Homo sapiens: one gene and its partners. The protein of the gene in region 4 purifies or fractionates together with the protein of the main gene of each other region. This does not show direct contact. Each region holds a gene or a part of one and is shown on either strand. Other genes may lie near its edges. The genes, in order: TNKS, RLIM, RNF111 and AXIN2.

What was found.
Region 1: the proteins of AXIN2 (region 4) and TNKS purify together in Homo sapiens (co-immunoprecipitation; one study listed by IntAct). This does not show direct contact.
Region 2: the proteins of AXIN2 (region 4) and RLIM purify together in Homo sapiens (affinity purification with western blotting, with the first as the bait; one study listed by BioGRID). This does not show direct contact.
Region 3: the proteins of AXIN2 (region 4) and RNF111 purify together in Homo sapiens (affinity purification with western blotting, with the first as the bait; one study listed by BioGRID). This does not show direct contact.

What each region holds. Positions count from the first base shown.
Region 1 is NC_000008.11:9,704,707-9,710,779, forward strand, and holds part of TNKS (poly [ADP-ribose] polymerase tankyrase-1), read left to right. Parts: coding exon 1-51; intron 52-1,480; coding exon 1,481-1,547; intron 1,548-2,104; coding exon 2,105-2,291; intron 2,292-3,664; coding exon 3,665-3,786; intron 3,787-5,248; coding exon 5,249-5,340; intron 5,341-5,435; coding exon 5,436-5,514; intron 5,515-6,073.
Region 2 is NC_000023.11:74,593,529-74,599,601, forward strand, and holds part of RLIM (E3 ubiquitin-protein ligase RLIM), read right to left. Parts: intron 2,473-6,073; 5' UTR 2,450-2,472; coding exon 2,281-2,449; intron 862-2,280; coding exon 778-861; intron 1-777. UniProt on the Homo sapiens protein: E3 ubiquitin-protein ligase.
Region 3 is NC_000015.10:59,086,951-59,093,023, reverse strand, and holds part of RNF111 (E3 ubiquitin-protein ligase Arkadia), read right to left. Parts: intron 3,358-6,073; coding exon 3,265-3,357; intron 1,966-3,264; coding exon 1,870-1,965; intron 512-1,869; coding exon of another isoform or gene 488-511; coding exon 384-487; intron 1-383. UniProt on the Homo sapiens protein: E3 ubiquitin-protein ligase. Required for mesoderm patterning during embryonic development. Acts as an enhancer of the transcriptional responses of the SMAD2/SMAD3 effectors, which are activated downstream of BMP.
Region 4 is NC_000017.11:65,549,076-65,555,148, forward strand, and holds part of AXIN2 (axin-2), read right to left. Parts: intron 586-6,073; coding exon 445-585; intron 1-444. UniProt on the Homo sapiens protein: Inhibitor of the Wnt signaling pathway. Down-regulates beta-catenin. Probably facilitate the phosphorylation of beta-catenin and APC by GSK3B.

The DNA of each region.
Region 1 (6,073 bases), on a different chromosome or scaffold from region 4:
AGTTCAGCTTCTTCTTCAGCATGGTGCTGATGTTCATGCAAAAGACAAAGGGTAGGTCTATCAGTTTACTTCCTGTCAGTGCTTTGTTTTTTGTCTGATACTCTAAACTTTTAAAACACTAGACAAAGTCATATGTCCCATTTGTTACGGCTTACATAACGTTTTAAGAATGTTCATAACTCTGGTTTGAGGCTTTATTTTCATGTACCTACTTAATTAAGGATACTTCTCATAATAATTTCCCAAATCAATTTAATTTTATCACCGTTCTGTTACTTGAAGTTGAAATTGTGTCTCAGTTGCAGTTAGGGTTTTTCAACTCTTAAATTGCATTTTAGAAAAATAAAACAAATTGAAAATTATGAAAATCCAGTAGCATAGCTATCAGATTCAACAGATAGTAAAGGATCATCCTTTATTGATAAACCAAAATCATAAGTATACAATACCAAATTTTTTTTCTGGTGAAATCTTGGACATCTAAACTGAGAAAACCTAGAAGGTTGATGTGAGGGGATATGGGTGGTAACTAAAAAAGCAGTTATGTCATTTATTTTACCAGTAGGTCATTTTTGAAAACTTTGTATCAGTTTCCTGTAAAGTCTCCAGAGATATACGATCATTGGGTTTGCTGTCCTATGTGGTGGACTAACATTTCTCATTGCCCCACTTTAAGATCTGAAAGATAATTAACCCTACTACCCAGGTAAGGTAGATTATGTTACAGTCTTGTGACTGACAGCATAAAGAAGAGATGCCCTAGAGGAGAGTTTCTTTCACTTTGTCCCTCCCCAAGTCAAGAAACATAAAAATGAACTCAATGCTTGAGACACTTACCAGAAGAATTCTTCCATTTCCAATCTGCTTTTTCTGGTGCTGTTCTCTTGCCTGCACCAGGTTTTGTGCCATATGTGAATGGTGTCCCAGTAGTATAGGGGCATAAATGCCTGATGCTCTTGTACATCTCTATTTCCTTGTGCATGTCTGAAAACAGATGGGTGTACAATAGGTGAGTCATCAAGAGATGTACACCACAAAAAAAGGGTTTTTTTGGTTTATTTAGAATACTTTGATATGCAAGTTATAATAGTTTGGATATTTGATTATTTTGCTAGAAATTACCATTAAAGTGAATTAAAATGGTGGAATATTTCAGTTCACTACCAATTAACATTTATTTCTTGTAAATACTTAATATATAATGCATGCATTTGTCAATTAGCATATGATCTTCCTTTCGCCAAAATGTTCTTCTATTTGGTATTTTTTTCATTATCTTCAAGGATTATATACAAAAAACAAGATAAATACAAAAGGTGTGAACATAAGCTATGCTTTGAATTCTTTTATTATTTTATTAAATACTTTTAAATATTTTAAAATAATTGTATTGGGATTTATTGGATTTTATTTCTTAGTACGACATGGATAAATAAGTTGTTTGAAATTTAAGTATTTTAATTTGCCTCTTTTCATTTAGTGGACTTGTGCCTCTTCATAATGCATGTTCATATGGACATTATGAAGTCACAGAACTGCTACTAAAGGTAAGAGAAATTCAGAATATTGAGCATCATTTACTTTTTTTTTTTTTCTTTACCTTGTCATGACTTTCCATACTTTCGGCCTCATGAAAGTTTGTTTAGTTCTTTGGGGTTTTTTGTTTGTTTGTTTTGAGACAGGGTCTTGCCCTGTCACCCAGGCTGGAGTGCAGTGGCACATTCACAGCTCACTGCAGCCTCAACCTCCCAAGTTCAAGTGATCCTCCCCCTCAGCCTCCCCAGTAGCTGGGATTACAGGGGTGTGCCACCACGCACAGCTAATTTTTATGTTTTTTGTAGAGACGAGGTTTTGCCATGTTGCCCAGTCTTGTTTTTTTAGATTTTAAGAGAATAAAATACGTTTTTAAACATATTACCATTGCCTTAAAATTTTTAAAACATTGAATTTAATTTCAGCTGTTTTTGAAAGGTGATATTGAAGAAATTAAAACACTTATTTGAACAAGTTATAACTGAAATTTACAAAGAAATAAATGTCTTTTGAGTTTTATTTGATCCAGCAAAATGATTACTGACCTAAAATGTTTTTTTTCTCAATTCAGCATGGAGCTTGTGTTAATGCCATGGATCTCTGGCAGTTTACTCCACTGCACGAGGCTGCTTCCAAGAACCGTGTAGAAGTCTGCTCTTTGTTACTTAGCCATGGCGCTGATCCTACATTAGTCAACTGCCATGGCAAAAGTGCTGTGGATATGGCTCCAACTCCGGAGCTTAGGGAGAGATTGACTTGTACGTATTTATATCCCGAAATCATTATCGCATAAATTGGAATATTTAATTTCTGTTGAGTTTTATCTACCTTAAATAATAACCTTCCATTCTTACAAGCAGACTAATTCATAATCCTCATTTCTAATTGTATACTTTTCTTCATGAATTCCATGGGAATGTTATATACAGACACTTTTTGTATATATTGTATTTATTCGAGCCTAGTTTTAATTCGTATGTTGAAGCTCCTTTTTTGGTTTTTTGAAGGCTAATGAGGATGAGTCAATCAGCATCCATTTCTTGGATACTTGCAATGTGGCAGGCACTAGAAATATAGCAGTGTACAAACCATTAAAAAGCTCTGAGCTTCTGGGGCTTACATTCTTGTGCTATTGACAGTGATAGGTATCTAGCATTATTGAAACCTCTTATGGGCTTACGTTCTTGTGCCATTGACAGTGACAGGTATCTAGCATTATTGAGCCCTCCCCATTTCCCGAGCCCTGCAAGGCTGCACAATCATATTTTTATTTGTCATGTGTGTTATGACCCAAGTATAATCACTTTCCCATATTTAAGTGAGATTTTAAAAATAATTAGGTTGAGGTCATCTTCTGAATATATTACCAATATATACATGCAAATGTTTTTTAAATAAACTTTTTGTTTCAGCATAGTTAAAGATATAAAAATATTGGATTCTCATTCATGCAATTAATTTAGATACAGCTTTTCAAAAAATCTCTCACCTGGTTATGAAAATAATAAGCTATTAATTGTTCTTTGAAAAATTTTCAAGCTCTGCATTTCTCCCATATTTTAGTCCTTTCCTTTTCTGTGTCAAGACCTAATCACCATTGATATTTTGGTAAATATTTCTGTAAATGTTTTCTATACCATTACTTATGGTGTACTTATGGTGGCAATAGTAGTAGCAAGAGTAGTGACAATACCAAAAATAATGCATCAGCCTGTCCTTTCTTTTTTGAATTTTCATGTACCACTGTATACTTTCATGTCAGTGTATGTAGACCTATCTCTTGTTTAAGAGCTAGAAAGTGTTACAGCATATGTGCACACAAATTATTTAACTGGTTTCCTTTTGGTGGACATTTAGGTTTCCTGTTTCAAAATTTTGCTGCAATAAGTATCTTTATAGGTGTATCTTTATGACTCTGAGAGTGTGAAACAGTCTTATTTCAGAGCATACATACTTCACATTAATCTACATCCTCATCTTTTGCATTTTTATCATCATATTATCACATTGCTGCTGTTGTTAAAATAGAGAAATTCATAAAATAATAATATTCCTACTTATTTATAATCATGCTGAAGATTTTTATACATTTTTACATCTTTTTTTATGTCAACCATTGTTTCATTGACAGATGAATTTAAAGGTCATTCTTTACTACAAGCAGCCAGAGAAGCAGACTTAGCTAAAGTTAAAAAAACACTCGCTCTGGAAATCATTAATTTCAAACAACCGCAGTCTCATGAAACAGCACTGGTAAGATTTTATTGTTAATCTATTCCCTGTGTCTATAATAATAACGTAAGCACAAAATATGATTTTCATTTCAGAAACCTTAAAGTAACTTTAGTATCTGAAATGCCAGGAATTTGCATGTTAATTTTGGTTGCATTGATTTTTAAACTTAGTTTGGGGGGTGATTCTTTTCATGGGTGAGAGAATTGACATTTGCTCAACCTCAATTTGGAAATTATTTTACCTTTGTCTTCCCCACCTCATTATAACAAATCCACTTTTGTGGCCAGTGCTTTCATAAACTACAAGATATGATTTTTCAATAGAATTTTTTTTTCTTATGTTTGCTAGATAAATACTAGATTTCCTTCTGTAGAAGATTAAAGTATATTTTTAGATATTTGCATTATCTTTTTGAGCAATTGTATTCAAAGAACTGATTATATTCATGGTAGAAAAATGGCAAGATCATGAATTTTTTGTTTGATACTATACAAATTATTCTTAAAACTATCCACGTTTTTTTCTTCAAATGCACTTTCGGAAAGATTTATTTATTTTCTTTGTCATTGACACATTAAGGCTCAGCTAGAGAGTGGTTAGTGATCGCTCCTAAATTCAGAATTTAAGCATATGTGATGCCTGCATCACAGACCTTAAATATACCTAATTAATATTCTTACGTATATTTGACACAAAAGATCAAACGTTTGTCAGTATCTGCATAAAACAACATTAAAGGATTGACCAAACTGAAATAGGCTAACTATATGTACACTTAAATACATGTCTCTCAAACTAGGGTTGAGATAGATTCAAGCTACACGGTGTTATGCTAGGAGATATTCATAGCCACAGAATAAACCTGACCCACTTTTTTGGAGTTTTCATTTTATTTAGTTGAAAGTAGTTTTTTATTTTTAAATTTTAATACGAATATTAAAATGAAGCAGAATAAAAAAGTTGTATAAATATTATGTTAAAACCTAAAATTTCTGAGAATATTTTTCTCTAAACTGCTTCAGTTCTATCATTTTCTTGCTTATCCTTGGGCATATAAACGTCTCCTGTAGTGCTGGGAGTACCTCTGTAGAAGAGCTTAGAAATACTGACTTGTGTGGCTGATGGCCTAATGAAAGATTGAGTAACTTAGTTATAGATTTCTGTAGCGTTGCAGAGGCATACGTATTATGATGCTCTCCATGGAATATATAGTGAATATTTATTGATTGGCTAAGCCAAAAGAAATAAGATCTCTCTTAATGTTTAAGAGCATAATTTCACCTTGGTTTAAACGCTTACGTTTTGTATTTCCACTATACGTAGAAAGAATATGGATCATCTCTGTGATATAAAACATATACATATGTTCTGATACTCTGAGATAACAATGTTTTAAATGGTCAGCAGATACTGTTCAATTCCAAGAGCTACTGTACATATGGAAGTGTATTTTATTAACTTGGTTTTGTTTACTTTATAGCACTGTGCTGTGGCCTCTCTGCATCCCAAACGTAAACAAGTGACAGAATTGTTACTTAGAAAAGGAGCAAATGTTAATGAAAAAAATAAAGAGTAAGTATAATTGCAGAAGGAGTTGTTCAGTTCCTAAAGAGGAAATGCAATAAAAGAGAGACAATTACCTTTTCTTTCTTTCCTCTTTTCTGTAGTTTCATGACTCCCCTGCATGTTGCAGCCGAAAGAGCCCATAATGATGTCATGGAAGTTCTGCATAAGCATGGCGCCAAGGTGAGGCACACACCTGAGCAGAGTGCCAGACTCAGCACTGAGCAGCCAGCTGCTCTTAACACTGCTTCTCTCTCTCCGATTTTTCTGAAGAAACTAATTTTATAAAGGACTATTAGTTCGTACTTAAATTCATGGATTCTCCTATAAAGCTGATTTAGATCTTGTTTCTAATAAAAATAATTACCCGTGTTTCTTGATCCTTTAATGTCACCCTTCTGTAAAGCAACAAAATATAGCTATAGTCATTTGAAATAGATTTCATCTTTACATTACTTTCAGTTAATACTATACGGATATATTTTGATAGTGTCCACTTGAATAACAGTTTATCAGAAAATAAATTATGTTAAATGATAGCATCAGAATAGCTCTACTTATTCTAAAAAACATTTGTGGCCAGGCACAGTGGCTCACGCCTGTAATCCCAGCACTTTGGGAGGCCGAGGCAGGTGGATCACGAGGTCAGGAGATGGAGACCATCCTGGCTAAGACGGTGAAACCCCGTCTCTACTAAAAATACAAAAAATTAGCCGGGCGTGGTGGCGGGTGCCTGTAGTCC
Region 2 (6,073 bases), on a different chromosome or scaffold from region 4:
GGACTATTTATTGTAGCCATAAGAAAAATACAAACAAGATTTATAGGTTTAAAAGCATTTGAATATTTCTTAATGTTACCAAGGTTTTCAATGGACATGAAGTTAAAGATCAGATCAAATAAGTAGTCTGAACCTTGCATAGCACATATAATGGCATGTTCAAGAACCAAATTATTATCGTAGCCTCTCAGGTTGCACAATCAAAATCCCTACTTGACACTGGGAGGGAAACACCAGACCTGAGGTTAGAGCAGGATTTCTCAACAGTGGTACTACTGACATTTTAAGCCAGTTAATTCTGTGTCATGGGGGCTGTGTTGTGCATTATGGCATGTCAGGATGTTTGGCAGCATTCCTGCCCTCTACACAAATGTCTCCAGACGTTGCTAATGTCCCACATGGGGCAAAATTATATCTCATTAGGAACCACTGGGTTTAGACATTTCTTTTTGCTGGTGAAGAAGTCACATGTTTATAAAGAAGGAATTAAGTAGGAATAAATTTCAATGGAGGTGAAAAACAAACAAACAAACAAAATCACATTTAAATGGGCCATTTCTCACTGTGTTCCAATTAACATAAACATCTCAAAGGTGAGGTAGAAAAAAAATGCTGACATTCTAAGTATCAAGAAAATGTCAGTTTTCTTTTTATGAGCAGTTACTTAGCACCAAATTAATTTGTGCCAAATCTGGATAATCTTTGGCTGACATTTACTATTACAAAGTTCCTATCATCCCATCGTCTATCCACCTCCCCACCAAAACCAAAACATACCTCTATTTTCATCTGAGTTTTGCGGTGGTGGGCCTTCTTTAATTTGCTGTAGTCGTCTCAGCAACTCTTCCTCAGTACTTTCACCTGAAATTTAACACCACAGGGCAAAGATGACATTAGGGGTATGACAATCAAATACTTTATCAGTGACTCACAGTAATCTGACACAAGATGATTAGAAAAAAAATCATATTTTTAAAAGAGAAAACTTTTTCAAACCAAAAAGAAAAACCAAGGAGTAGGTAGGTCCTGGGAAAAATTCACTTCTTTGGAAACATATTAAAAGCAATTTACAAAGTTCTTTTGCATATAACATCTAACTTTGGCTCACGCCTGTACTCCCAGCACTTTGGGAGGCCGAGGCGGGTGGATCACCGGAGGTCAGGAGTTCGAGACCAGCCTGGCCAACATGATGAAACCCCATCTCTACTAAAAATACAAAAATTAGCCAGACATGGTGGCAGGTGCCTGTAATCCCAGCTGCTTAGGAGACTGAGGCAGGAGAATCGCTTGAGCCCAGGAGGCAGAGGTTGCAGTGAGCAGAGACTGCACCACTGCACTCCAGCCTGGGCGAAAGTGCAAGACTCTGCTTAAAAAAAAAAAAAAAAAAAAAAAGGCAAAGGCAATTCTAAGCTGGGCGCACAGTGGTACCACATCTGTAGTGCCAGCTCGTTGGGAGACTCAGGCGGAAGAATCCCTTGAGTCCAGCCTGGGCAACATGAGACCCTGTCTCAAAAATAAATAAGTAAGTAATTTTTAAGAATTGCAGCTTTGAGAGGAGGATATTGTTATCTGCATTTTAAAATTAAGAAACAGACTGAGCGACAGACTGGCTTGCCAGGAGCCACACCAAACAGCAGGGCCAGAACTCCACCTAAAGCATTCTGATTCAAGCCTGGTATTGTTGGCTAAAAACACACTCCCTCTCTTAAAAGTCATGCTAAAACCTTACCTTTTAAAATCTAAGCAATTACTCAAAGGTAAGTAGAATTAAACAGAAATGAAGAGGAAGACAGATACTGACTTTTAACTAGGATCAAATGGGACTTAGTGGGGTAAAAGATAATTAAGCACAAACTTCTAATTGCTATGTTACCCAAGGCTAGCTCTGGAGGATTACAACTGGGACATATTCAGAAAATCAGAGATAACAGAATAAGTCTTTCCTAAAAACTAAGTTCCCATTAGCTATTCCACACTCGGATTCTTATCTAGTAAGTTAGATAAAGCTAACTAAGAAAAAAAAGATTTAGCTCCATTCTTTTCAATTCAGTTCGCTAAAAATTCATAATTCATAAGTTAAAAATCTCTCTGATATAGTGTAATTCCAAACATCAGTAAATATAATCAGGTAATAAATACAGCAATAAATGTCATTCCATATCCCCTATGTTAAATAATATTTCATAAGGGCTAAAGAAATGGATTTTTAAAACAGGTTCAAGCATTTTTTTTTAAACCAGCAACTTACACTTATAAATCCTTAAATATATGTAAGCATACCTGGGGTGCCTAGCAAATTGTTATCTCTCATAAGCCTATAATCTTCTTCACTCAGGTTATTTACAAATTGATAGAAAGCTTCTTCTCGATCCAATCGGTCCATCTGACTTCTGCGCTGTGCTGCAGACTGATCACCACTTCCTTTGTCATTGGAATCTGAGTTTTCCATATTGATGAACAAGTGGAAAATACCTGAAAAGAGAAAAGAGACTAATCTTGAAAATAAAGGTCACTATGTATTCTATACAAGTTTTAATTATGTGAAAATCCAGAATGTAGGTCTAGAGATGGATTTTCAGACCTCAAATGAAATTTCCTAACAAAAACTCCTGAAAAGCACTGTTATATTAAGAGTAGGTCAAGGGTTGGCAAACTACAGCCCTTGAACCAGACAGGGTTGGCGAACTAAAGCCCTTGGGCCAAATCCAGCCATACTGTGGTATTTTTTGTTTTTTGAGATGGAGTCTCGCTCTCTCAACCAGGCTAGAGTGTAGTGGTGCGATCTCAGCTCACTGCAACCTCCACCTCCTGGGTTCAAGTGATTCTCTGCCTCAGCCTCCCGAAGTAGCTGGGACGACAGGCACCTGCCACCACGCCCAGCTAATTTTTGTATTTTTAGTAGAGACAGGGTTTCACCATGTTGGCCCAATCTGGTCTCAACCTCCTGAGCTCAAGTGACCTGCCCTCCTCAGCCTCCCAAAGTGCTGGGATTACAGGCATGAGCCACCGCACCCAGCCTCGTGCTGCATATTTTTATTCTCCTTGCAACCTAAGAATGGTTTTTAGAGACTATCTTGTGACATATGAAAATGCAATGAAATTCACATTTTAGTGTTCATAAAGTTTTATTGGAACGCAGCCATACACATTCATTTACATGTTATCTATGGCTGCTTCTGTGCTATAATGGCAGAGTTGAGCAGTTGTGACAGACTGTATGTGGCACTCCCATTGCTTTGGACTGCTGCTCTGTGCACTCTTAAGTTGCAGTGATGTAGCTATAATGACAGCATTTCAAGTGCCTTCACACTGGACATTAAAAAAAACTGAGTATACACTCATCATCTCAAACAAAGAGAAAAGTGGACTCTGAATGTCACGCTTAAAGGTGCAGCAGAGGATGGGTTTTTCAAAAATCAGATTAGATGGCAAAGAATGCATGATTATGCAAAAAATACTATATACTAAATACAATATATACTGACACTATTAAACACTAGTGACAATATTCCCAATTCACAGGAAAACTACAGTTCAAAAAGTTAGAAAATTTAAAGTGAAATCTCATCACAAAATATTTCTTCACAAAAATAAAAATGAGGCTTCAATCAAAGTAAATTTCCCAGGGGCTCATTTATTGGCTAAACGAGGAAAGCTGTTTATTGATGGTGAGTTAGTGAAATTATGTTTGAGTGCAGAAGCTGAAGAAATGTGTCCAGAGAAAATAAACATAATATTGGACTTTTGGTAAGTATAGTGGTCCAAAAAGCTGGGAATATTGAAAAGCAATGTCACTAATCAACTGAAAAATAAGGTAAATGATGGAGTGGTTTTCTCTTTGGCTCTTGATTTGTTGACAAATGTAACTGATACTACTTAAGTTATTGTTTATTCAAAGAGCCAAGTGTTGATTATTCAAGGAGTTTGAACTGCAGAAGTAGCCCCTATGTGTAGTCTACATGAAATAATCATAGGTGAGAATATTTTCAAAGTTGAGAAAACTAATTCAGCAAAACCTGAAGCAGAATCTCATAATAAGATATGTTACTACTGGAATGGTAAAAATATATATGGAATGGAAAAAGACCTAGTTGGACAAATTTACAAAGTTTATGAAAATGTAAGGTATTTAACGTTTATGGTTATATATTTTATTACTCATCATCAAGTGATCTGAAGAAAATTTCAATCTATCATATTACTGAACCAGTAGCACTAATGATAAACTTCTCTCTTATGAACTCTGGTTTAAGCTCAAGTTCCATGAATTTTTGTCAGAAATTTTGTCTTGCTCTACAACACAACATTTGATGGGCTAATATTGGTAAAGTTTTATTGTGATTTGTTGTGCTCAAGGCAAAGATGGATTTATTTTCTGTGAGAACCGCTCTCAATTACTATTATCAAACAATAAATAGCTTGGAAAATTAGTGTTTCCTGCAGACTTGATAATGTTTCTTAATGAATCCATCCTAAAACAACAAAGCAAAAAATACTTATATATGAAACTTATACTGTGGTAAAGCCATTTCAGCAACAACATTGGTATCACATGTAATGTCAAGCTGTTTTATATACTTCATGTCCTGACAAAGTAATGAGAGCTCCATTCCCACACAAATTTGTAGCACATACATTTTCTGAGCTCAAACTACAGTTCCAGAACTGTTTTGCAGACCCCAATGTAAGCACAAAATAAATTTCCTTATTTCAAAATCCATTTAACTGTGCAACTGAGGAGCTTCCATCTAACCCTCAACTAGAAGTGACATCTCTGCAGTGGTAATATGCCAAAAGGTAAATATTAAAGTCATCTGGCTGGGGTGTGGTGGCTCACACCTGTAATCTCAGCACTTTGGGAGGCCGAGGTGGGAGGATCACTTGAGCCCAGAAGTTCAAGACGAGCTTGGGCAACATAGTGAGACCCCATCTTCATAAAAAATTAAATTAAATTAAAAGATAAAAAATTGCCAGGCGCGGTGGCTCACGCCTGTAATCCCAGCACTTTGGGAGGCTGAGGTGGGCGGATCACGAGGTCAGGAGATAGAGACCATCCTGGCTAACACAGTGAAACCCCACCTGTACTCAAAACACAAAAAAATTAGCTGGGTGTGGTGGCGGGCGCCTGTAGTCCCAGCTACTCGGGAGGCTGAGGCAGGAGAATGGCATGAACCTGGGAGGCGGAGCTTGCAGTGAGCAGAGATCGCGCCACTGCACTCCTGCCTGTGCGACACAGTGAGACTCTGTTTCAAAAAAAAAAAAAAAAAGATAAAAATCTAACAAAATTCTATATATGCTTCACTAAAATCATACACTTGTGGATTGCTTAAGATAGCAATACCTATATGTATGAAAAGATATTTTCAAAGATTAAATATTTAAGTCAGCAATAAATGGACATTTGCAAATGACTAATAAGGAATACTAGCTATGAATCCCAATTAAGCAAAATGTTACCCTCAAAAGAGTATCATTCTTCTCATTAGTAAACCTATCTCACGAAACACTGTACTCAATTATTGTTATTACATTTTGAGTTTTATCAGGAAAAACTGTGAGAATTTGGTTTCTCTCTTTTGTGTGACAATATGCTCAATTTTGCTTTTTGATCTGCAAAGCCTAAAATATTATACTATCTGGCCTTTTAAAGAAAAAGGATGCCAACTCCTGTTCTAGGTAATACATAAACTTAGCCAAAAATTCTTGTCATTCACTATTTGTACGAGTTTAAGGAAACCAGAATATTGGCAGACATTCCACACATACTCATCAATGAACTGCACACTAATAAAAAACAATGGTAGTCAACAATCTAAAATACAGGGAGACTACAAACAAAAATGTTCATCCTCTAATTCTTTACCTTACAACCCCAGATTCCCCTTATGTTCCCCACGAACACAACTAAATTCCATGAACATATGTGCTACTGACCAAATGTTTGTCCCCCTCAAATTCACATGTTGAAATCCTAAATCCCAAGGTGAATATATTAGGAGGTAGGGCCTTTGGTCATAAGGGTGGGGCCCTCATGAATGAGATTAACGCTTTTATAAAATAGTCCCCAGAGAGT
Region 3 (6,073 bases), on a different chromosome or scaffold from region 4:
TTACTTTTACTCTTTTTTTTCAGAGACAGGGTCTCACTCTATTGCCCAGGCTGGAGTGCAGTGTGGTGTGCTCAAAGCTCACTGCAGTCTCAAACTCCTGGGCTTGAGCCATCCTCCTGCCTTAGTCTCCTGAGTAGCTGGCACTGCAGGTGCACACCATCACATGCAAATAATTGTACTATTTTTCTTTTTTGTAGAAACAGAGTCTTGTTATGTTGCCCAGGTTGGCCTCAAACTCCTGGCCTCAAGAGAGCCTCTGGCCTTGGCCTCAAAAAGTGCTGGAATTACACGTGTGAGCCATCATGCCCGGTGTAATTTACTTTTCAAATAAAATCCCATGTACAGTTTTGACAATGGATTTTAGATAATTAATATCTAGTTACCTCACATCTTCACCTTCCTCTAAAATAGACAAACAGATAGTACATTTTTCCTCTGTGTCTTCCTCAGTCCCTTCTTCCCCATCTTGTTTGCAGTGCAGTTTCCTCTGTGAGAACCAATCAGTTGTTACCTTATTAGTAGAGATGACATTATTGAACAACTGAGTAAAGTCTGTGTTTATTTGAAAAACAAAACAAAACAAAACCACATATTCACCCGCACTTTTTTCCCAGGTAAGACTGTCATAAATAAATGGATGAATTAAGTGACTATCATCAATTAAGTATATTTTTAAGACCCTCTAATAATTGGGATCAAAAGCAAAATCAAATTTAACAGAAATTCATTCACTTAAAAGCTATTACTTTTAATCCACAATGAGAATGATAAACAATATAAACTATTTTTATCCTACCATGAGCATAAATAAGTTTTTTTTATTAGTGAATGTTTCAAGTAACATCCATTTAAATTAACATTAGTTACAGTATTTAACTTGGACAGTTGAAAACTTGAATGTACTGGTAATACCTCAATACTCTTTGAAAATAGATGAAAAATACAGAGAATAGTAATTTTCACACTTTATGATTATTCTTTACATAGTATAAAGGAGTCTCCAACCCCTGGGCTGCAAACCAGTACCTGGCTGCACAGCAGGAGGTGAGTGGCAGGTGAGCGAGCATCACTGCTGGAGCTCTTCCTCCTGTCAGATCAGCAGCAGCGATAGATTCTCATAGAAGCGTGAACCCTATTGTAAACTGTGCATGTGAGGGATCTAGGTTGCATGCTCCTTAAGAGAATCTAACTAATGCCTGATAATCTGAGGTGGAATAGTTTCATTCTGAAACTATCCCCTCTGCCACCTATCCATGAAAAATTGTCTTCCATGAAAACTGGTCCCTGGTGTCAAAAAGGTTGGGGACCGTTGGTATTGAGCATGGTTTAAGACACGTATTTAACATGTCTACCCCATAACTGTATAATGCTATACAAGCAACTGAGGGTAGAGTAGAAGAAACATACATCAATAAAATGTCCGTCAAAATAAATTGCTAGTTAAAAAAATTACAGTACTGCCATATGATGGAATTCTGCATAAGCTATTAAAAATAATAAGGGTGATCTGTGGGAGCTAATTGGCATGAAAGGCAATCTGCAAACTATGTGGTAATCATCTCCTTTTGTGTTTTTTTTAAAGTAGACAAAAATATATATACATATGCACATTATTAGAAAATGCTAAAAAATATCTAGAAGAATATCTAAATCCTTAACTATGATTTCACTTCTGGGAAGAAGGACTAGGGTCTGCAGAGTAAAAAACTGCAAAGTATATATTTTTTATACTTTCCAAAATTTTTAAACAATATGTATGCATTACTTCAATAAAAATGTCATTGCTAGAGTCTACAAATTCAAAAAAGGTATATATTACATTTATGCCTTTCAGTAACACTCCAGAAGTTTCATAGAATAAATTCTTACCTTTTTGTATTTATGTGGATATGTACATCTTTCAATTGTCCCCTGGGATGCTCCACGATTGACATTGCCTAATCTTTCTTCCAAATGAATCAGTTCCTGAAAGTGAAGAATATAATGACTGGTAAAAGCCAAGATGATTATTCCTTGAACAGAACTGTCAACATTGTATAAGAAATAAACCTCCATACTTAGAAACTTGCAATATAAATACAGTGTTCAAAAAAACTTACACATGACAAGTGGTTACTTATATATAAGTATATATATAAAACAGTTTATATGTTGCCCAGGCTGGTCTCAAACTCCTGGCCTCAAGTGATCCTCCCACCTCGGCCTCCTAAACTGCTGAGATTACAGGTGTGAGCCACCATGCCTGACTTAATGTTTCTCATAGACAGTAAGGCAAATGGTTGTTTATCATGTTTTCCTCAGCCAACTGAAATGGTACAGCAAAAGTTATCTTTATAAATTACAACAATATTATCACATGGTACTATGTAAGTCAGTATGTATGTATGTATGGAGAAGATGAAATAATTCTAGTAAATTAAGGAACCAAATCAAACAATAGTTCTAAGTCACAATGACTCCAACTTCCAAACTGACATAAAAAAAACACAACGGGGGCCGGGTGCGGTGGCTTGCGCCTGTAATCCCAGTACTTTGGGAGGCCAAGGTGGGTGGATCACTTGAGGTCAGGAGTTCAAGAGCAGCCTGGCCAACATGGCAAAACACTATCTCTACTAAAAATACAAAAATTAGCCGGGCGTGGTGGCGGGCACCTGTAATCCCAGCTACTCAGGAAGCCGAGGCAGGAGAATTGCTTGAACCCAGGAGGCGCAGGTTGCAGTGAGCTGAGATTGTGCAACTGCACTCCAGTCTGGGTGACAGAGCAAGACTCCATCTAAAAAAACAACAACAACAAACAAACAAACAAACAAACAAAAAAACAAACCACAACAAAACTTTAAATCCCATTCGAATGATTTGTTCTTCCTGAAAATTCAAACAAGACATTTAGCTACAAAGGGAATTACTTAAGTTTCTTTTTCTCTACCGATTTCTCTAAAAATTTAGCTGAGTCAAAAACATTCCGTTCCCCACCACATTTAATGGTATAGTTATATATCTGACATTTATATTGATTTAATACATTTTTATATTCTTCTATATTAGATATTTTCATTTACTCATCTTTAAATATTTCGGTAACTTTTGACCCTAAGATTAATAATACTTACAAATATTTCTGTAACTCCCAGAAGCAACATCAGAAAATCACATGTGATTCCCAGCCACTGTAGCAGTCCTACACAATTGTGTATAGTAGTATATATATACTCAATCTGCATTAAAGATACTGTGACAAACATATTCATTTATTTTATTACATACCTCAAAATTGCCCCTGAAAGGACCTCTGAATGATGTTCCATCCAATCCTGATGAAATGTAACGGATGTGAGGATAGCCTGCCATATCAGGAACCTATTTCAACAGAAGAGATAGGCTAAATCAATTTTAAGAATAGACTTGTGATTTACTGTTAACATTGAATAATTCAAGACCCTCAATGTTTTCAATTCAACTGCTCATAAAATTTGACTTCAATAAGAATACATAACTCCAACTAAGCATTCTGTAACAGGTTTAGGTTTCTGTTAAAATATAACCTAACTCTCCAAAATGCCCAAACTTAAGCCTGAGGCTCTTAGTAGCTCAAACTTGAAAAGAGTAAAATTGTCTTAAGATCCTGTCCATTTCAGAGAGCTTTATTAAAACAACAACAAAAAATGCACACAATTTTCCAACAAAATTCGACTTCAAGATAAGTTTTTTACTTCACTTCTGTTAAGCTTCCTAACAGCCAAAGTACCCTATGCCTTTTTTGCTTGATTCTATTAGGGAAACTTTTAACACTGTTTTCTAATTTTTTGTTAGTTACAGTCAATCTTCATTATTTATGGATTACATATGTGTGAACTGACCCACAGGCTAAAATTTACTTGTAACCCCATAATCAACACTTGTGCTTTCAGAGTCATTCGTGGATATGACCGGTGGCAAAAAATTGCAGTTGCCCAACATGCAACTCTGTTCCCAGCTGAGGTAGAACAGGGCTCTGCCGTATTTGAGCTCCTACTATAAACCAGTGTCTTGTTTGCAGACTGTTTAGTGCCACGTTTTTCACAGTTTTGTGCTTTTTGTTGGTGATTGTGTTGTTTAAAATGGCACCCAAGCATAGAGCTGAAGTGCTGTCTAGTGTTCCTAAGCAAAGAAGGCTGTCATACACCTTATGGAGAGAATAAGTTTCATTCACGCATGAGTTACAGTGTTGTTGGCTATGAGTTCAATGTTAATGATTCTACAATATTTTTTAAAGTTGTCTTTAAGCAGAAACACACATAAAAAAGGTTATACACTGATTAGTTGTGAACAGAGGTTTGCAAGGGTCCCATATTTGCTAATTCAGTGTTTGCAGCAACTGTATAGATCATAACTGCCATGCATAGTGAGAGTATTAGGAAAGGGCATTTCTGAGATACAGCACCATTCTTCCATCTTTATAAATAAATCTCTGACATTACTTTTTAATTAGCCTACACTGAATCACAACATACTTTAAGCAGAATTTATAGCTTTAACGGACACTTCATATGTGGAAAAGAATTTAAATAAGCAATAACTTTTAACCTTCAATAGCCTATTACTTAAATTGTTTACAACTTTTCTTATAACCAAGATCATTACTACTCAGCAGATAACCCAACCTCCTAAACATCTTCAAAGAAATCGGAAAGGAACTCCTGCATCCCAAATTATCTAAATCTTCACTTACCCTGAAAAGCCTCTCCTCCCTAGTCTCTTTCCTCCAGCCTTTATGGATGAGCTTTTCTCCTATTCGAACTCAATCCTTATCACCCACTCCTCCCTTCACCTGTTCACCCTGGGTCATGCTTACTTCACTACTTCCCACCAAGCCTCTCTCTCTTCAATATCTTCAAACAATTCCTCTCTAATGGTTTTCTGTCTTAAACCTGAAAATACCTTAAGTTTTTCCAAACCTAAATTCTCTACTAATCCTGGAATTACTGCCAACCAAATAGGGGTTTCCTTCACTTTCCCTTCACAGCCAAGCTTATAAAGCAAGAAGGCTATATTCACTGTCTCCATGTTTTCACTTCCTTACCGTACGTAATCTAAGAGGTGCCCCATCTACATCACTCACCATTACTGAACCATTCTGACACAAAAGACCAATAACCACTCTACTGCCAAATGCTTTCAATACTTTTCAAACTTTATTTTTTTGTGATGACACCATACTGACCATATTACAGTTCACCCTTGAACAACATAAAATGGGTTTGAACTGCATGGGTCTGCTTACATGTAGATTTTCTGCCACCTCTGCCACCCCAGAGACAGCAAGATGAATCCCTCCTTTTCCTACTCTTCAGCTTACTCAATGTGAAGACAATAAGGAAAGAGACCTTTATAATGATACACTTTCACTTAACGAATAGTAAATGTATTTTCCCTTCCTTATAATTTTCTTAACATTTTTTTCTACTTTATTGTAAACTATCATTATCTATTGTAGACTATCATTATCACGTACTTATAACATACAGAATATGTGTTGATCAACTGTTTATTTTAGCAGTAAGGCTTCCGATCAACAATAGACTATTAGTAGTTAAGATTTTAGGAACTCAAAAGTTATACTCTGATTTTCGACTGTGAGGAGGGTCAACACCCCTAACCTCTGCATTGTTCAAGTGGTAACTGTATTTTCTGATATTATTTTAACTGTGTTTCTCAACTTTTCAAGCCAGTTCTCAGAATCCTTTGTTCAAAGCATAGTATTATCATTTAAATACAGTATTGTCATTCTCTAAGGTTTTTTCACCCTCTTGTCACTCTGCACATTTTTCCTGAAAACCTAATCCTCTTCCATGGATTCATTACCTCCATATACTGACAGATCAAAACATATCTTTAACCCAAATATCTTTGGAAATCCAGACCACAGGCTTAACTTCCTATTGGACATTCAACTTTCATAGAGATTCAGTACATCCAAGACCTAACTCACCTAACCCCTTCACCCAAACCCTAAATATCTCTCAAATGTGTATCATCATTTTTATGCCAACTACAATTGCCTTCATTCAGGCATTCATCAATATTTACCTCTTCT
Region 4 (6,073 bases):
CAATGAATACCTAAACACAGACCCTTCTAATGCCACCTTGTCTCCCAGCTGTTGGTTCTGCAGACAGGATACCTGGGTTTCTGGACCAGCCAAGCAACTGTTCCCACAGGGACAACCAGATGATGACAACCAGAAGAAGGTTTTTTAAACTCAAGGAATCTATAAATATTCATTCATCCTAATCTTCTACTGTCCTTTAGTTTTTCTTCTGTTACAATATCCTCCCAACTTTCAAAGCTCTAAGCTTTACCCTACCCAGATGACCATGTCATCCTCCTTAATCAGCACCATACCCTTGTCATACTCCCCTCCCACCAAACTGATGTCCATACATGCACAGGTGCGGTCTGCAAAGCCAGCTGAGGATGACAGACGATTCTGGCTAAGTGCTCAGGTGGCATCCACTCCCAAGCAAGCCCACGGAAGGGTGGCCAGGATACTCACACACTGCTGTCCGTCATGGACATGGAATCATCCGTCAGCGCATCACTGGATATCTCACTGTCGTTGGCGCTGGTGGCTGGTGCAAAGACATAGCCAGAACCTATGTGATAAGGATTAACAGGATCGCTCCTCTTGAAGGACCTATGGGCAAAGTACAAAAGTGGTTCAGTCACTGACCCTCACCAGAAACCCAGGTAATCAGGTGACCCCAGGACAACCCAGCACACTATCCCACAATCTGCTCAACGCCAACCTGCTGCCCAGGTCCAGTTGCTCACCTGGGCAGAAAGCAGGGGCCACAAAAGGGAGGCCTCCTGAGCCACCGGTTCACCCTGGGGAAAGCAAGCTGGTTCCTCTGCCCCCAGTGGTGGGTCTGCCAGGGCAGAGAGTATTCCAGAGGCAGCCCAGGGGATCCTGTGAAGCTCTAAATGCACTTAGAGGAAGGAACTGGACTCTGCTTTAGGAGAGGAGGCCATGGAATAGAAGAGGGGAACGAGTCAGTGAAGATGAAATATCTTTCTCTGCTCCACCTCCCTATCCAATCCTGCACCAAAGAATACAATTTCAGGGCCCCAAGACATCTTAAGTACCTAAACTCCTTGTCTGGGGTCTGTTAGCCCAGTCCAGAGATGCAAACAGCTAGAGGCCAGTGTGGCCTTCTCACTTTGACCCTGGGCCCACAGTGAGCTGGACAGACGGGACAGAAAAGTTCAAGACAACGTTCAGGACTCCAATCCCACCTGTGAGCTCTGCCATGAGCCGTTGCCATGCCCCTTCCCCCAACCCCCAGCTTCCTCTCCCCAGGACTGGCTAGTGCAGCAGGATTGAAATGAGCAACACAGCTGTTTCAAAGGAAGGCCCAGGCCCCTCCTCCGGTATCTCCAGCCCTTTTGTTTCAATGGCCTCTGGCTCCTAATTTCACCCTCCTGATCTCCTTCCAGAACAACCAGTGTGCACATCTCCTGCTGGGCCGCATTCCTCTTGTGTCACCAGTGAGGGGCTTAAGTAGCGGGGAGGGGCAGATAGGTCGGCAGGCTGCACGTTAAGGCCTGAAGTCGCAGGAGGCCTATTTACAAAGACCCTGGCATCCTCCACTGGTCCCACCAAGTCTATGCCAGCAGCAAAGAAATCAAGTGAGGGAGAAAAGAAAGGCTCAGAAAAGAGAATATATTCTATTAGTCCACAGCAGCTGGTCTGTAAAGATGGCCGTGGGGTTGGCAAATGAAAAGGACCCAGAAAGGTGACAGTCAGCTGTCTGCACATGTTCACCAAGCTCCTACTCACTTGCTACATGCTGAACTCTGGTCTTCCAGCACCCATGGCCTGGTGGGGGCATGTCACCATACTGTGGGGGTGTCATGAGGGAGGTACGCTCAGTGTTATCACAGGCTCACGAGGAGGGGAGAAGGAGCACTGGACTGTGCCCATTCTACAGATGAGGCCCTTGGAGTCCAGAATTCCAGCAGCCTGCCCAGATCACACAGCTGGAACTGGTGGGCATGGATTGAGTCACGTGGCTCTCAATCAAACTGCCTCCCAATACAAAGACTAGACTCAACATGTTTCCAAGTTCTCACAGAATAAAAAGCAGGAAAGGAGTGCCTTAGTACAGGTAACCCAGATGACGGATAGAACATTTCTAGGAGGGACAGTTGGGGACGGCTCCCTGGGACAGATGGGACTGATGGGACTAATGGGACTAACGGGACTCCCTGGGACAGATGGCAGATGGGACTCATGGTTGAGCAGGAATTTGAGGAGATGACAACCCAGGACTAGGTAAAGGGAAAAAAGGGAAAGGTAGCGAAAAGCTCTCCCTAGACTAGGGAGAGAGAGGGGTCTAATTAGCCAGGCTAAGAAGGCCTGGCAAGGGACGTAGGTCTTCAGTGCAAGGTCATAGTCCTGTCTTAACTGGATGGGGAGGGGCCAGGAGGCCAGGGGACAGCAGGGGTGCCAGGGGACCGGCAGGGAGAAAGCATTCCCATCAGCACATAGGATCCAAGGTCTGTCACCAGACTGGATGGAAAGGAGGGGTAGGTACAGGCAGGGAGCCCTGGGGGAAGCCACCGCCACAATTTGGTGTGAGGGTCTGTCTCAACAGGGGATGGTGGGATGGAAAAGAAGGTAGGAGAGGCAGTCTCTGCCTTTAAGGAGTTTGCGCTTGTTGGAGTCACCAAACACACACAAAAAGTTACAGGGCCATAAACTTTTTAAGCCAGAAGGGACCCCTGTAATCATCACAACCACCCAAGGAGGTAACTTAGCACCATGTGGGCCAAAGGCCTTGTCAGACTTGGCCAGAGGAGCCGGACCACAGCTGTGCCCTGGATCCTGTCCGACTGCATCAAGTCAGATCTTAGAAATATGCTGTAGGCATAGAACTGACCAGAAGGTGCAGACCAGGAGCACTGCACATGAACCCCTCAACACTTTTGACCAAGTGACTTGTGACCGTCACTTGGACACTCTGACCCTGTTCTCATATCTGTAGAGGGCAAGAAGTCTCACGACCTCCTGGGATTTTTTTGGTGAAAATTAAATGAGAACGGTAAGATCTTCCAGGCCTTCCTCCTGGTCCATGTGTCCTCAATCCGGAATTCCCCAACACCAAGGGCAGAGAGGAGTGGTGAGAGTAAAAAGAACAGTTCATTCTTCTGGAGAAGAGAAGGTTGATTCAGTGAAAAAGGCCTCGTAGTTGAGAAGGGGGACTCTCTGTTCAGCATCCCCACTAAAGGAAGAACAAGGGGAAATAGACTTCAAAAGTTAGAGAGAAAAAAATACTTCTAAATGGTCAGAGGAAATCCATAAAGTAGGTGGGGACAGGCTGTGAAATCACCCAAGTCTTTAAAACAGGCCAAAGTGCCCAGCCATCTGGGTGCGTAAGTAAGGCGTGGATACTGCCTTGAAGCAGGATGCACACGATGACTTCCTTGGGGCCTTTTCCTGTTGTTAGGAATCCAGTGATGAGGCCACATTCTGTAAACTCTCAGTAGGGACCAGAAGTCAGAGGCTGGGCACTGCTGCCGGCTTGGCTGCAGTGCTCACTGCTGGGCTGAGTCACAACCCCTCCAGAGGTGGGCACCCACCTGAAGAGCAGGCAGTTGGATCATGGCCTCTGCACCAAGTTCTGAGGTCCTCCAAATGAACCAACAAAGGCACAGTAATTTGGGGGAAATCACAGGAAAATTCCAAGAAAAAACCGAGTGCCAACAAAAACAGAGAGCCCCAGCCAGGCACGGTGACCCACGCCTATAATCCCAGCACTTTGGGAGGCCGAGATGGGTGGATCACCTGAGGTCGGGAGTTCAAGACCAGCCTGACCAACATGGAGAAACCCCGTCTCTACTAAAAATACAAAACTAGCCGGGCGTGGTGGCGCGTGCTTGTAATCCCAGCTACTCGGGAGGCTGAGGCAGGAGAATCGCTTGAACCCGGGAGGCAAAGGTTGTGGTGAGCAGAGATCACACCATTGCACTCCAGCCTAGGCAACAAGAATGAAACTCCATCTCAAAAAAAACAAAAACAAAAACAAAAAACCAGAGAGCTCCCATTTTCTCAACTGCCCTAATTTCCTTCATCATCTTTATCATGATCTATAATGACTGGACACTGGTGTTTCCATGTTGAACACCTGTCCTGTGAAACCAGACTGTAAGCTCCATGAGGGACAGCCCTGTCCTCACACGAATCTCCGACGCTGAAAGTAGTGAGTGGCACGTGGCAGTGACTGAAAACCTTGCTGACTCTCCTTAAAGGACCTAAGACCATTAGATGGGTCACTGGAAAAGTTTTTTAGTTTAACAGGCATGGTGCAACACCAAAAAAGCCAAAACAGCCTTAAATAGCATTCAAACACTCTTTCTTCCATGCCTTCAGTCCTGCTATCTTGGTGGTATTAACACATCAACCATGTCTCCACTGTAAGAGCTATACTTCAACCTCTGTGGGGAGAAAATGACTCAATAGAAAATTCCTTCCTCCCAGCAAAAAAGACACCTAACTCAAACCCTATGTGTGCTCACACGGCTTTGCACTCGTTGTTTAACACATGGATCCCAAAATAAACTTGTCTCCCTTCACTTCCAACATAGAGGACTACTGTGTGACCAGTAATTAAAAATGGAATATACTGCTCTTAACTCAGTTGACTGCAATAAAGTACTTGGATTTTCCCACAATCATAACAAGACAGGGCAGAGAAAGGAGGCAGGGTTGTGGGGAGAGGCAGAGACTCGGTATTTCAGAACCCAGACCTTTGTCAAAAGTGCCACATAATTTTAAGAAAACGGAGTGGGGCTGTTTTCTTGTGATTACTTAAAAAAAAAGGCGGGGGGGGGGGGAGGAAACTCAAACCACGCTACAGTAATTGTACCCAGATGCTTTATTTCCTCAGGACTGTTGTGCTTCCAGTTGCTGCAAGGATTTTAAATTCCTACACAGAGTAGAGGCCTATGCTGCAGCTTCTGCATCAGCCTCACATCCACAGACCTGGTTTGCAACCTCAGTAAGCAAAGGGTTTTCAGCCTGCAGGTGGCAGAGACCCCCGGAACCTTCAGGGAAAGGAGGTGCCGGCTGCTTTCTGTTTTCCCCTATCCTGTTCTTATCTCCTCTTAATGAGATGCTGTGGCCCTGCCCCTCCCCATAAACCAGAGGGGAGCCTCCAGGCAGGGAGCACAGAACTGACCTGACAGAACTGACCATAGGGGTCCTCCTCCTTCTCCTCCTCTTCCTCTTCCTCCTCCTCCTCCTCACGTTCCCTTCTCAAAACAATGCAACTTCAAAAGTATATGCTTCTAAGTCTGTGCGTTCAGGGCTTTCCAAGAGCCCTCTGAAAATTTACTCACAAGGTCACTGCCCAAAAGGCAATACCCTCTTCAACAAGCATTTTCTAAGGCAAGATCAAGGGACACTCGGCAAGGGGCCAGGACTCCAACAGCACTGGGCAACGGGACCTTTTGAAAACAGGCAAACTTTTACAAGTGGATCTTAGCAAACTGCCCTCACCAGAGCTTCCATCCTCTAATTGTGGACTACTGCTTCCAGCATATCTTTCCTATGGCATCATTTTCTTTGATAATTGAAGCCAAGCTTGATTCCAATGGCTCCGCACAAAAACGGGCCTCATCAGCGAGTTCTTTCAGAGAACTGGAAGCAGCACTCGGAGCCAGCAGAGGGCCATCTGCTGGGCCCGACTTCTTTTAAGGGAGGCCAGAGCAGAGGGCCCAATGGGAGGCAGATGAGCCCCACCTTGGGCAGGACACACAAGGGCCCGTGCAGAAAGGCGAGGACACAGGGAGGGCTCTGTGCACCCAGCACCTTATTCTCCTCCCCAAAATAAATGCTGGGCCCAGTGCCCAATCCCACAACCCCCCTTCGCACACACCTCGACACTGTGCGTGTGTGTGTCTGTGTGCCGGGGATTTTACACGTGCTCCTACCAACAAGTTGCTTTTGCTCTAGGTTATTTATAGCCATTGTCAAAAGCCCAGGCATCCCCCTCAACCACTCAGACCAGAGTCCTGCCCTCTGAGGATAATTCCTGCTCTTCCGCCCCAACTATTTATATTAAACCTGACACCAAATCAGTAAGGACACAAACAAGTCGTTAAAAACGAGGCTCCTTTGAGTG